2 linked regions of the Homo sapiens genome follow. The protein of the gene in region 2 interacts with the protein of the main gene of each other region in a pairwise test. Each region holds a gene or a part of one and is shown on either strand. Other genes may lie near its edges.

The links. Proteins that work in one complex are often made in the same cells at the same time.
Region 1: the proteins of HSF2BP (region 2) and GPBP1 interact in binary tests that used the Homo sapiens proteins (3 or more experiments, as listed by UniProt).

The regions. Positions count from the first base shown.
Region 1 is NC_000005.10:57,224,886-57,230,170, forward strand, and holds part of GPBP1 (vasculin), read left to right. Parts: intron 1-5,285. UniProt on the Homo sapiens protein: Functions as a GC-rich promoter-specific transactivating transcription factor.
Region 2 is NC_000021.9:43,606,299-43,611,583, forward strand, and holds part of HSF2BP (heat shock factor 2-binding protein), read right to left. Parts: intron 3,692-5,285; exon of another isoform or gene 3,589-3,691; intron 1-3,588. UniProt on the Homo sapiens protein: Meiotic recombination factor component of recombination bridges involved in meiotic double-strand break repair.

The DNA.
Region 1 (5,285 bases), on a different chromosome or scaffold from region 2:
ACAATGACCATTTGCTTGAGTGAACTGCTCACCTACTCTCCCCCTACAGTATCCATTGAGAACGAAGGTAGGGGACACAGTGGATCACTGCAAATTACATAAAAATGCCCCCATCTCATTCACATCTTACCTCCCCAGATGAAAAGTCTAGGTTCAAGTAGGAGATTTTCTTTTTTTCTTAAGTGAAGTCACAGCTCTTGTACTTTAAAGACTGACATATAGCCAGCACAGTAAAATATGAGTAAGAAATACAATAGGACTAAAAAGGAAGATAGAAAACTGGTATTATTTCGCCGGGCACGGTAGCTCATGCCTGTAATCCCAGCACTTTGGGAGGCCAAGGCGGGCGGATCATGAGGTCAGGAGATCTTGACCATCCTGGCTAACATGGTGAAACCCCGTCTCTACTAAAACCTGGCTAACATGGTGAAACCCCGTCTCTACTAAAAATACAAAATATTAGCCAGGCGTGGTGGCGGGCGCCTGTAGTCCCAGCTACTCGGGAGGCTGAGGCAGGAGAATGGCATGAACCCGGGAGGCGGAGCTTGCAGTGAGCCAAGATCGTGCCACTGCACTGCACCCTGGGAGTCAGCAAGATTCCTTCTCAAAAAAAAAAAAAAAAAAAACAAACTGGTATTATTTGTGAACAATTAACTGTCCATATTAAAAAAAACTCCGACAGATTCTACAAAGTAAGAATTAAGATTGCTAGACACAAGACTAACCAATTTCATGGCTGTGGAGGGAGAGCAGACAACTCCAACACTTGAGAAACACATTACCCCAGGAGGTGCAGAAAGGTGAACAATTAATGCCCTCTCTGTACCGTTGAACCAGCATCACTGCCTGAGTCAAACAGCAGCTGGAGGAGATGACACTGACACACTGCTAGATTTGTCACCTCTGTCCACATGCTTTGAACTTGGAAAAATTGATGTGGACATGGGCAGTCAGCTATCCTGCTACTCCTGATGCCATCAATGCAGCTCCTAAATCTGCATTTGAACACTCAGATCCATACAACCTTGTTTCGTTATGATTAATAACAATTCATATGCTTATCCAGATACCTGAAAGTTAACGACATGTGTAGCAACTGAGGCTCCAGTTACTTTGAGACAGTGTTCATGTTTCTGAACTAAGCTATTAACAGTAATCCAAATCAAGTTTAACAACAGATCTTGGAGTGACCTGTGTCCCTTGGGGTGGTTGGTTTTTATGTGAGAGAATGAGATACAGGACATCTCTCTATTGACAATGAGGGGTAACTTTTGGCCCATTTGTTGCCCTTGTAATTGTTAATGAAAGACACCAACAGTCAGGTCGGTTTAAATTCCTGTTAATGAACTGTAATGGATAATCATGGCCTTAGACCATATCCTGGCAAAATTACTTATTGGTGGTTCCCAACCTCCACCAGCGTTCCTCCTTCCAGGGTTTATTCAGTTGGCTGGGTCCTGACCTCACTTGAGATGTTGATAATAGACTTAATTAAATGCTGTATAAGACCAGTTAAATGAATTTTGTTCTAGTCTCTGTCAGGAAGATTAATATGAGTTACTAACAGTGGAATAATAATGGGAAAATTCAAATTCAGCCAAGAATGTATAGGGCTGATGGGTAGATCATTGAGAGAGGCAATTCATCCTGGGCTCTGAGCATTTTTGCTTTTTTTTTTTTTTTTTTTTTTTTGAGATTGAGTCTTGCTCTGTCACTCAGGCTGGAGTGCAGTGGCGCGATCTCAGCTCACTGCAGCCTCCGCCTGCTGGGTTCAGGCAGTTCTCATACTTCAAGTCACTGGGATTACAGGTGTGCGCCACCAAGCCTGGCTAATTTTTGTATTCTTTTTTTTTTTTTTTTTTTTTTTTTTTTGAGACAGAATTTCGCTCTATTGCCCAGGCTAGAGTGCAGTGGTGCGATCTCTGCTCACTGCAAGCTCCGCCTCCTGAGTTCATGCCATTCTCCTGCCTCAGTCTCCCAAGTAGCTGGGACTGCAGGTGCCCGCCACCGCGCCTGACTAATTTTTTGTATTTTTAGTAGAGACGGGGTTTCACCATGTTAGCCAGGATGATCTCGATCTCCTGACCTCGTGATCCTCCTGCCTTGGCCTCCCAAAGTGCTAGGATTACAGGCGTGAGCCACCGTGCCCGGCCTGTATTCTTTTGAAATTATTTTTTAACTTTTGGAGGTGGAGTCTCGCTCTGTTGCTCAGGCTGGAGTGCAGTGGTGCAATCTTGGCTGACCGCAACCTCCACCTCCCAGGTTCAAGCAGTTCTCCTACCTCAGCCTCCTGAATAGCTGGGATTACAGGCACCCACCACCATACCCAGCTAATTTTTGTACTTTTAGTGAATTTAGTGTATTTAGTGAGCCGTTTCACCATTTTGGCCAGGCTCGTCTCAAACTCCTGACCTCAGGTGATCTGCCCACCTCACCCTCCCAGAGTACTGGGATTACAGGCATGAGCCACCACACCTGGCCTAATTTTTGTAGAGATGGAGTTTCACTGTATTGACCAGGCTAGTCTCAAGCTCCTGACCTCAAGTGATCCACCTGCCTCAGCCTCCCAAATTGCCGGGATTATGGCCATGAGACACTGCACCCAGTCCCCTACACGTTCTTGCTTGTATGCCAAGAATGCAAAATCTTGACTACACTTTGCATGGGCCGTTTCTTGGTTGTTTGCAGTAAGCAACATTGAGGGACAAAGACCAAGCTCTTTATATATGTGGTTGATTTGCCAAACTCAGTGCAAGGGCAGCATCCACCTGGGCCCCTCCCTGTCAATCCCCAAAGGTCTTAGGGGGCTGTACAGAACCAGTGCCAACATCACGCTTATGCTGCTTGCTGTACCATGAGTAATAAAGTCTTTGTCTCATGTCTTTTGCCAGCATCCATGAAACAGTATCCAGGCTAGCTTGTTAGCTTGCACAGATGGTAACATCCCAGACTCTTGAAAGACTCTGACATATAGCCAGCATAGTAAAATATGAGTAAGAAATAACAGGTAACAGGACTAAAGGGCAAGATAGAAAACTGGTATTATTTATGAACAGTAACTGTCCGTATAAAAAAATCCCAACAGACATGCTACAAAGTATGAATTAAGGTTACTAGAAATAAAGTTGCTAGATAAAAGACTAATACAAGATAGAATTGTAAGTGCAACAAAGACTTAAGGCTTTAAAAAATATTTAAAATAGTAACAAGTACCCTGTTTAATTACTTCTTTATATGTTTAAATACTTCATTAAAACCACCTATATAGTCTTTTTAGAATATCAAAGCTAGCTGGGCGTGGTGGCTTACACGTGTAATCTCAGCACTTTGAGAGCCCAAGGCGGGCAGATCACAAGGTCAGGAGTTCGAGACCAGCCTGGCCAATATGGTGAAACCCCATCTCTACTGAAAGTACAAAAATTAGCCAGGTGTGGTGGTGGCCACCTGTAGTCCCAGCTACTTGGGAGGCTGAGGCAGGAGAATCATTTGAACCTGGGAGACGGAGGTTGCAGTGAGCTGAGATTGCACCATTGCACTCCAGCCTGGGTGACAGAGCGAGACTCTGTCTCAAAAAAAAAAAAAGTCTGCATCTATATCTGTATCTCAAAGCTGGGTGCAGTGGTGCATGCCTGTAGTCCCGGCTGCTCAGGAGGCTGAGGCAGGAGCATCACTTGAGGCCAGGAGTTCAAGTCTGGCTTGGGCATATAGATCTGTCTCTAAGGGGGAAAAAGATCCCCTCCATTCTTTATTTTACTCAGATTTCAGCGGGGGAAATTTTTTTAAGGAAATTAAAAAAAATAAGCTGTAGAAAAATATTTGCAGTATAAATGGCATCTGCTCAGTTCTGGGGCATAATACAAAAAAATTTTTAAAATGCTATAAGGTGCTAGGATAAATCTATTGAAATACATGCAAGACTGAAAAAAAAAAACTAACCATAAAGACTTAAAAGATGACAAATATAAGTATAGATATACATGTGCATTTCCCTCCCTACTGAGAGAAGTAAGCAAGCATATATGTATGTGTATGTTTTCTAACCCAGTAATGAATAATTGTCTGGGCTGAGTGCAGTGGCTCACTCCTATAATCCCAGCACTTTGGGAGGCCAAGGCAGGTGGATCACTTGAAGTCAGGAGTTGAAGACCAGCCTGGCCAATAATGATCAAACCCCGTTTCTACTAAAAATATAAAAATTAACCGGTTGTGGTGGTGGGTGCCTGTAATCCCAGCTGCTCACGAGGCTGAGGCAGGAGAATCGCTGGAACCCAGGAGGTGAAGGTTGCAGTGAGCCAAGATCGTGCCACTGCACCCCAGCCTGGGCGACAGAACAAGACTCCATCTCAAAAAAAAAAAAAAAAAAAAAAAAAAAAAAAAAAAAAGGAGTTGTCTGTCTTCTCAACCCTTACTGTCATTATATATTGGCCAATGGGCAAGAGGTGCCAGCTTTGTTCTAATCTTGCATTTTGATTACAAGAGAACCTGGCTATGTTTTCATGTGATTTGTGGCTCTTTAATTTTTGAGAACTGGCTTTTTGCTCATGTTTTCCCCATTAGGTTGTCCTTATTTGTATTGATTTATAGAGCTCTATTTTCCTTTCCTTTCCTTTTCCTTTTTCCTTTTTCTTTCTCTTTCCCTTTCCCTTTCCTTTTCTTTTTTTGATGGAGTCTTACTCTGTCTCGTCCAGGCTCTGGAGTACAGTTGTGTCATCTCGGCTCACTGCAACTGCAACCTGCCTCCCAGGTTCAGGCAATTCTCCTGTCTCAGCCTCCCGAGTAGCTGGAACTACAGGCGTGTGCCACCACACATGGCTAATTTTGTATTTTTTGTAGAGATGGGGTTTCACTGTGTTGGCCGGACTGGTCTGGTCTCGAACTCCTGACCTCAGGTGATCTGCCCACCTCAGTACCCCAAAGTGCTGGGATTACAGGCGTGAGCCACCATGCCTGGCCTTTTTCAAACATTTATTGATCATTTTCATGCATTTTCTTTTTAGATTACTGAGACGACTTGTTAAAATTTTCCCTTCCCTTCCCATCCCGTTGCATCGCATCGCGTCCCGTCCCGTCCCGTCCCGTCCCGTCCCTTCTCACATGCAATGGCGTGATCTCGGTTCACTGCAACCTCCCCGCCTCCCAGGTTCAAGCGATTCTCTTGCCTCAGCCTCCCGAGTAGCTGGGATTACAGGCATGTGCCACCACACCTGGCTCATTTTTTTGTGTTTTTAGTAGAGACGGGGTTTCTCCATGTTGGTCAGCTGGTCTCGAACTCCCAATCTCAGGTG
Region 2 (5,285 bases):
AGCCCCAGCTGTAGGAACAGAGAAGAAGGATGGCTGGGCTGATCCAAGGTTGAAAGCATCAGGAAATGTGATGCACACTGGGGCTGGGTGAGCTGGAGGGAGGGGAGGCCATGGAGGCAATGGTGTGAGCAGGAGGAAAGAGGAGGGAGGAGGAGCAGGAGGTCTTGCAGTTTAGAGGGAACAATGGTAGGAAAAGGAGGCAGGGAGGAGAGGAGGTATGGCCTGAGTGCTACAGCAATGTTTACCAGACAGTCCACCTGATGACAATGTGCAGGGTCTGGCCCAAGGCAGACTACTGCCACAGTGAAGGGCACAGCAAATCTTGGGAGCTGAGAAAGGCAGGTGGCCTTGAAATTAGATTGTTGAATGAATCACCCCTAAACATGTTCAAGTCATTCAAGATAGCAGGAAATGGGGAGGGGGACACCAACAAGCCAGTACTCAGTGAACAAGGGAAATGCCTGGATGGTCAGAAAAGTACAGTGATGAGAAAGGCTGGATGTGAAGAGAGCAACTGGTTGCTTGAATTTTCAAGGAGGAAAAAAATTCGCATGAGATTGGAAGAGAAACAGCCTTTTAAAAATGAGCATTCTGGGACATTTCATTAAAAATAAAAATGGGCAGCTAGAAGAAACACTTCCCCTAAGAACTGGAATAAGACATAGAGATATCCACTCTTACCGCACCTATTCAACACAGAACTGGAGGCCAGGTGTGGTGGCTCAAGCCTGTAGTCCCAGCACTTTGGGAAGAGCCAAGGAAGGCGGATCACTTGAGCTCAGGAGTTCAAGACCAGCTTGTGCAACATGGCGAAACCCTGTCTCTACAAAAAACTACAGAAATTAGTCAGGTGTGGTGGCACACACCTGTAGTCCCAGCTACTCAGGATGCTCAGGCAGGAGAATCGCTTGAGATCAGCAGGTCGAGGCTGCAGTGAGCCGTGATTATGCCACTGCACTCCAGCCTGGGTAAAAGGGTGAGACCCTGTCTCAAAAAAAAAAAAAAAGGTTCAAGCTGAGAGCCAAATCAACAACACAATCCTATTTACAACAGCCACACACACACACAAAAACCTAGGAATACATCTAACCAAGGGAGTGAAAGATCTCTTCAAGAAGAACTACAGAACACTGCTGAAAGAAGTATCATAGATGACACAACTGGAAAAACATTCATGTTCATGGACTGGAAGAATCAATATCATGAAAATGTCCAAACTGCCCAAAGCAATCTACAGATTCAATGCTATTGCTATTAAATTACCAACATCATTTTTCATAGAATTAGAACAAACTCTTCTAAAATTCTTATAGAACCAAAAAAGAGCCCAAATAGCCAAAGCAACGCTAAGAAAAAAGAACAAAGCTAGAGCCATCACACTGCCCACCTTCAAACTATACTACCAGGCTACACTAACTAAAACAGCATAACACTGGTACAAAAATAAACACATAGACCAATGGAACAGAATACAGAACCCAGAAATTAAAGCTGCACACATACAGCCAATTGACCTTTGACAACATTGACAAAAATAAGCAATGAGGAAAGGACTCCCTGTTCAATAAATGGTGCTGGGAAAAATAGCTAACCATATGTAAACGAATGAAACTGGACCACTACCTCTAACCACAGATAAAAATTAACTCAAGATGGATTAAGGACTTAAATGTAAGACCTCAAACTATAAAAGTCCTAGAACAAAATCTAGGAAATAGTCTTCTGGATATCGGCCTAGGCAAAGAATTTGACTGAGTCCTCAAAAGCAATTGCAACAAAACCGAAAATTGACAATTGGGACATAATTAAAATAAAGAGCTTCTCCACAGCAAAAAAAACTATCAACAGAGTAAACAGACAACCTACAGAATGGGAGAAAATATTCGCAAACTATGGATCCAACAAAAGTCTAATATCCAGAATCTATAGGGAAGTTAAGTTAAACAAATCAACAAGAAAAAACACACAACCTCATTAAAAAGCAGGCAAAGGGCAAGAACAGACACTTCTTAAAAGAAAACATATAAGCAGCCAACGAAACATGAAAAAATGCCCAACATCACTAGTCATCAGGGAAACGCAAATCAAAACCACAATGAGGTACTATCTCACACCAGTCAAAATGGCTATTACTAGAAAGTCAAAAAACATCATGTTGGCAAAACCACTGAAAAAAGGGAACTCGTATACACTGTTGGTGGGAATGTAAATTAATTCAGCACCTATGGAAAGCAGTCTGGAGATTTCTCAAAGAACTAAAAACAGACCTAGCATTCAACCCAGCAATCCCATTACTTGGTAAATAGCCAAAGGAAAATAAAATTGTTCTACCAAAAAGACACCTGCCCTTATAAGTTTATCACAGCACTGCTCACAATAGCAAAGATAAGTGGTGGCTCATGCCTGAAATCCCAGCACTTTGGGAGGCTGAGGTGAAAGGATCACTTGAGTTCAGGAGTTCAAGACTATCCTGGGCAAGAAAGTGAGACCCCTATCGCTACCAAAAAAAAAAAAATTTTTTTTAATTAGCCAGGCATGATGTCACATGCCTGTAATCCCAAGTACTTGGGAGGCCGAGGCAGAAGGATTGCTTGAGCCCAGGATTTTCAGACTGCAGTGAGATAAGATAGCACCACTGCATGCCAGTGTGAATGGAACAGCCAGACCCTGTCTCAAAAACAAAACTAAACAAAACAAAAATAGCAAAGACATAGAATCAACCCAGGTGTCCATCAACAGTGGATTGGATAAAGAAAATGTGGTACATACAAGCCATGGAATACTTCGCAGCCAGAAAGAAAGACCACCACCATGTCCTTTGCAGCAACATGGATGCAGCTGGAGGCTGCCTCCACTTATCTTAAGTGAATTAATCCAGAAGTAGAAAACCAAATATTGCATGTTCTCATTTATAAGTGGGAGCTAAACCCTTGGTATACGCGGACATAAAGATGGGAACAAGAGACACTGGAGACTCCAAAAGGAGAGAGGGAGGGAGAGGAACAAGGACTGAAAAATCTCCTATTGGGTACTATATCTACTATCTGAGTGACAGATTCAACAGAAGCCCAAACCTTGGCATCACGCAATATACTCTTGTAACAAACCTGCACATGTACCCCCTGAATCTAAAATTTAAATTTAAATTTTTTTAAAAAATGGGCAACTAGGAAAAAAATAACCCCTATCTCTGGGTCTAAGGTACTAACTGCTGAAAATGAGTGACCTTCGATCATGAAAGTGGCAGTGAAAGTGTAGTTCCCCAGAGAGAGGCAAGCTATACACAAGGCAGGGGGAGGCCAGGAAGAAAAGAGGCTGATTTATAGTATGAGAAAGGTCTTGGGGCTCCAGAGGACTCAAGGGTGGGCGTTAGTGAAGTGGGGGAGGTGAAAAGAGGGGAGAAGAGTGCCTTGGAGATGTGGTGAGACGGAACAAGCCATGAGCATGTTGGAAGGCAGCCAAAGATCCCAGGGGGAAGGCCCCTCTCAGGCTGGTGCATGCTGAGATCCCGAGTCAGGATAGAGGGTAAACACGCGGCTTTGCTCAGTGGCCAAATGGAAGACTGCCAAGAAAGTCAGTGAATGGCTCTGAAGGCAATTCTCCCCATCTCCCACTGCAATCAACAAGAGCTCACCAGGACCCAAAGGCACAGAGCTCCAGGGACTGGAACCGGAGAGGCTAGAAGTGACCCAGCCCTCACACACAGCTTTGCCTTGGAAGTTGAAGGGGGACTTTAGCTGGCCCATAAATATGGACCTTGTACAGACCACAGAAGCAAAAGAGGCAATGGATTAGTATCCAGAACACACAAAGACCTACAGCAGATCACTAAGAAAAATGCAGCCCAACAGGAAAGTGGGCACAAGACACAGACAGGTGACTCAAAGGAAAAACTGGAATGGTACAAACATGTGAAGAGCCTCAACCTCACTGGCAATCTAAATCTGAAGGAAGGGAGAGAAGGACAAAGACAGACAGATGATAGGTGGATGATAAAAATACTCTTTAAGGCCAGGTCCAGTGGCTCACGCTGTAATCCCAACATTCTGGGAGGCTGAGGCAGGTGGATCACTTGAGCTTAGGAGTTTGAGACAAGCCTGGGCAACAAGGTGAGACCCTGTCTCTACAAAAAATACCAAAAAAAAAAAAAAAATTAGCTGCGCATGGTGGCGTGCAGAGTAGCTGGGACCCCAGTTACTTGGGAGGCTGGGATGGGAGGATCACTTGAGCCCCAGAGGTCGCGGCTGCAGTGAGCCGTGATTGCACCACTGCACTCCAGCCTGGGTAACACAGCAAGACCCTGTCTCTCCCCCTCTTCCCCCGGCACCTCTCTCTCCATATACACATATATTTTTTCTCTTTAGAGGAATATAATAAATAGCAAAGTGCTGACAAGGACGTGGGAAACACGAACACTGACATGGTGCAGGTAGAAATGTACACTATGGTGACCAATTTGGCAGTATCTTATCAAATTGAAAATGTCCATGTACTACTTCTCAAATATTTCCTCTGGGAAAACTCCTGGAGAACTCTCAGACAGGTTAGCAAAGAGTTTATCAAGGATGCTCACTACGGCATTATATTTGTCAAGTAAAACCCGAAAGTAACTTAAATGCCCATCAGTCAGGGAAGGATAATCCAAATATTACATCTCCTTTGATGCAAGGTACTTAAAAGGAATGAACTAGATCCACAAGCAATTTGTAAAATTATACCCCCAAACAAAACCATCTATGCCAGCCTGGGCAACATGGAGAGACCCCGTCTCTACAAAAAAATTTTTAAAATTTAACAATTAGCCAGGCATGGTGGCATGCACTGACGGTCCCAGCTGCTCAGAAGGCTGAGCTGGGAGGATAACTTAAGCCTAAGAGGTCGAGGCTGCAGTGAGCCATGTTCATACCACTGTGCTCCAGCCTGGGTTACAAAGCAAGACTCTGTCTCAAAAAAAAAATTTTTTTTGCATATATGTTACACTGTATTATATGTATTATGTATGTATAGATATTTGTTAGCACAAAATATTAAAATGGACTAGAAAGCTTGGTTCTGGATAAGATGGCCTGAACACACCCTCCAGTCTCGCTTCCACTGAATGCAGCTATAAATTCCAAAGAGAATACATGAAGCAGCTATTTGAGGACTCTGAAAAGTAAACAGTAGCAGGCAGATAGGGGAAGAAGATCAAAATTTTAAGAACCACTAAACCAGCAGAGAGTTTACCACTTTTTCCTTTAGTGTCCCTGGCCTGGACTCGAGGGAGCTCCAAAACCCAAAAGTAG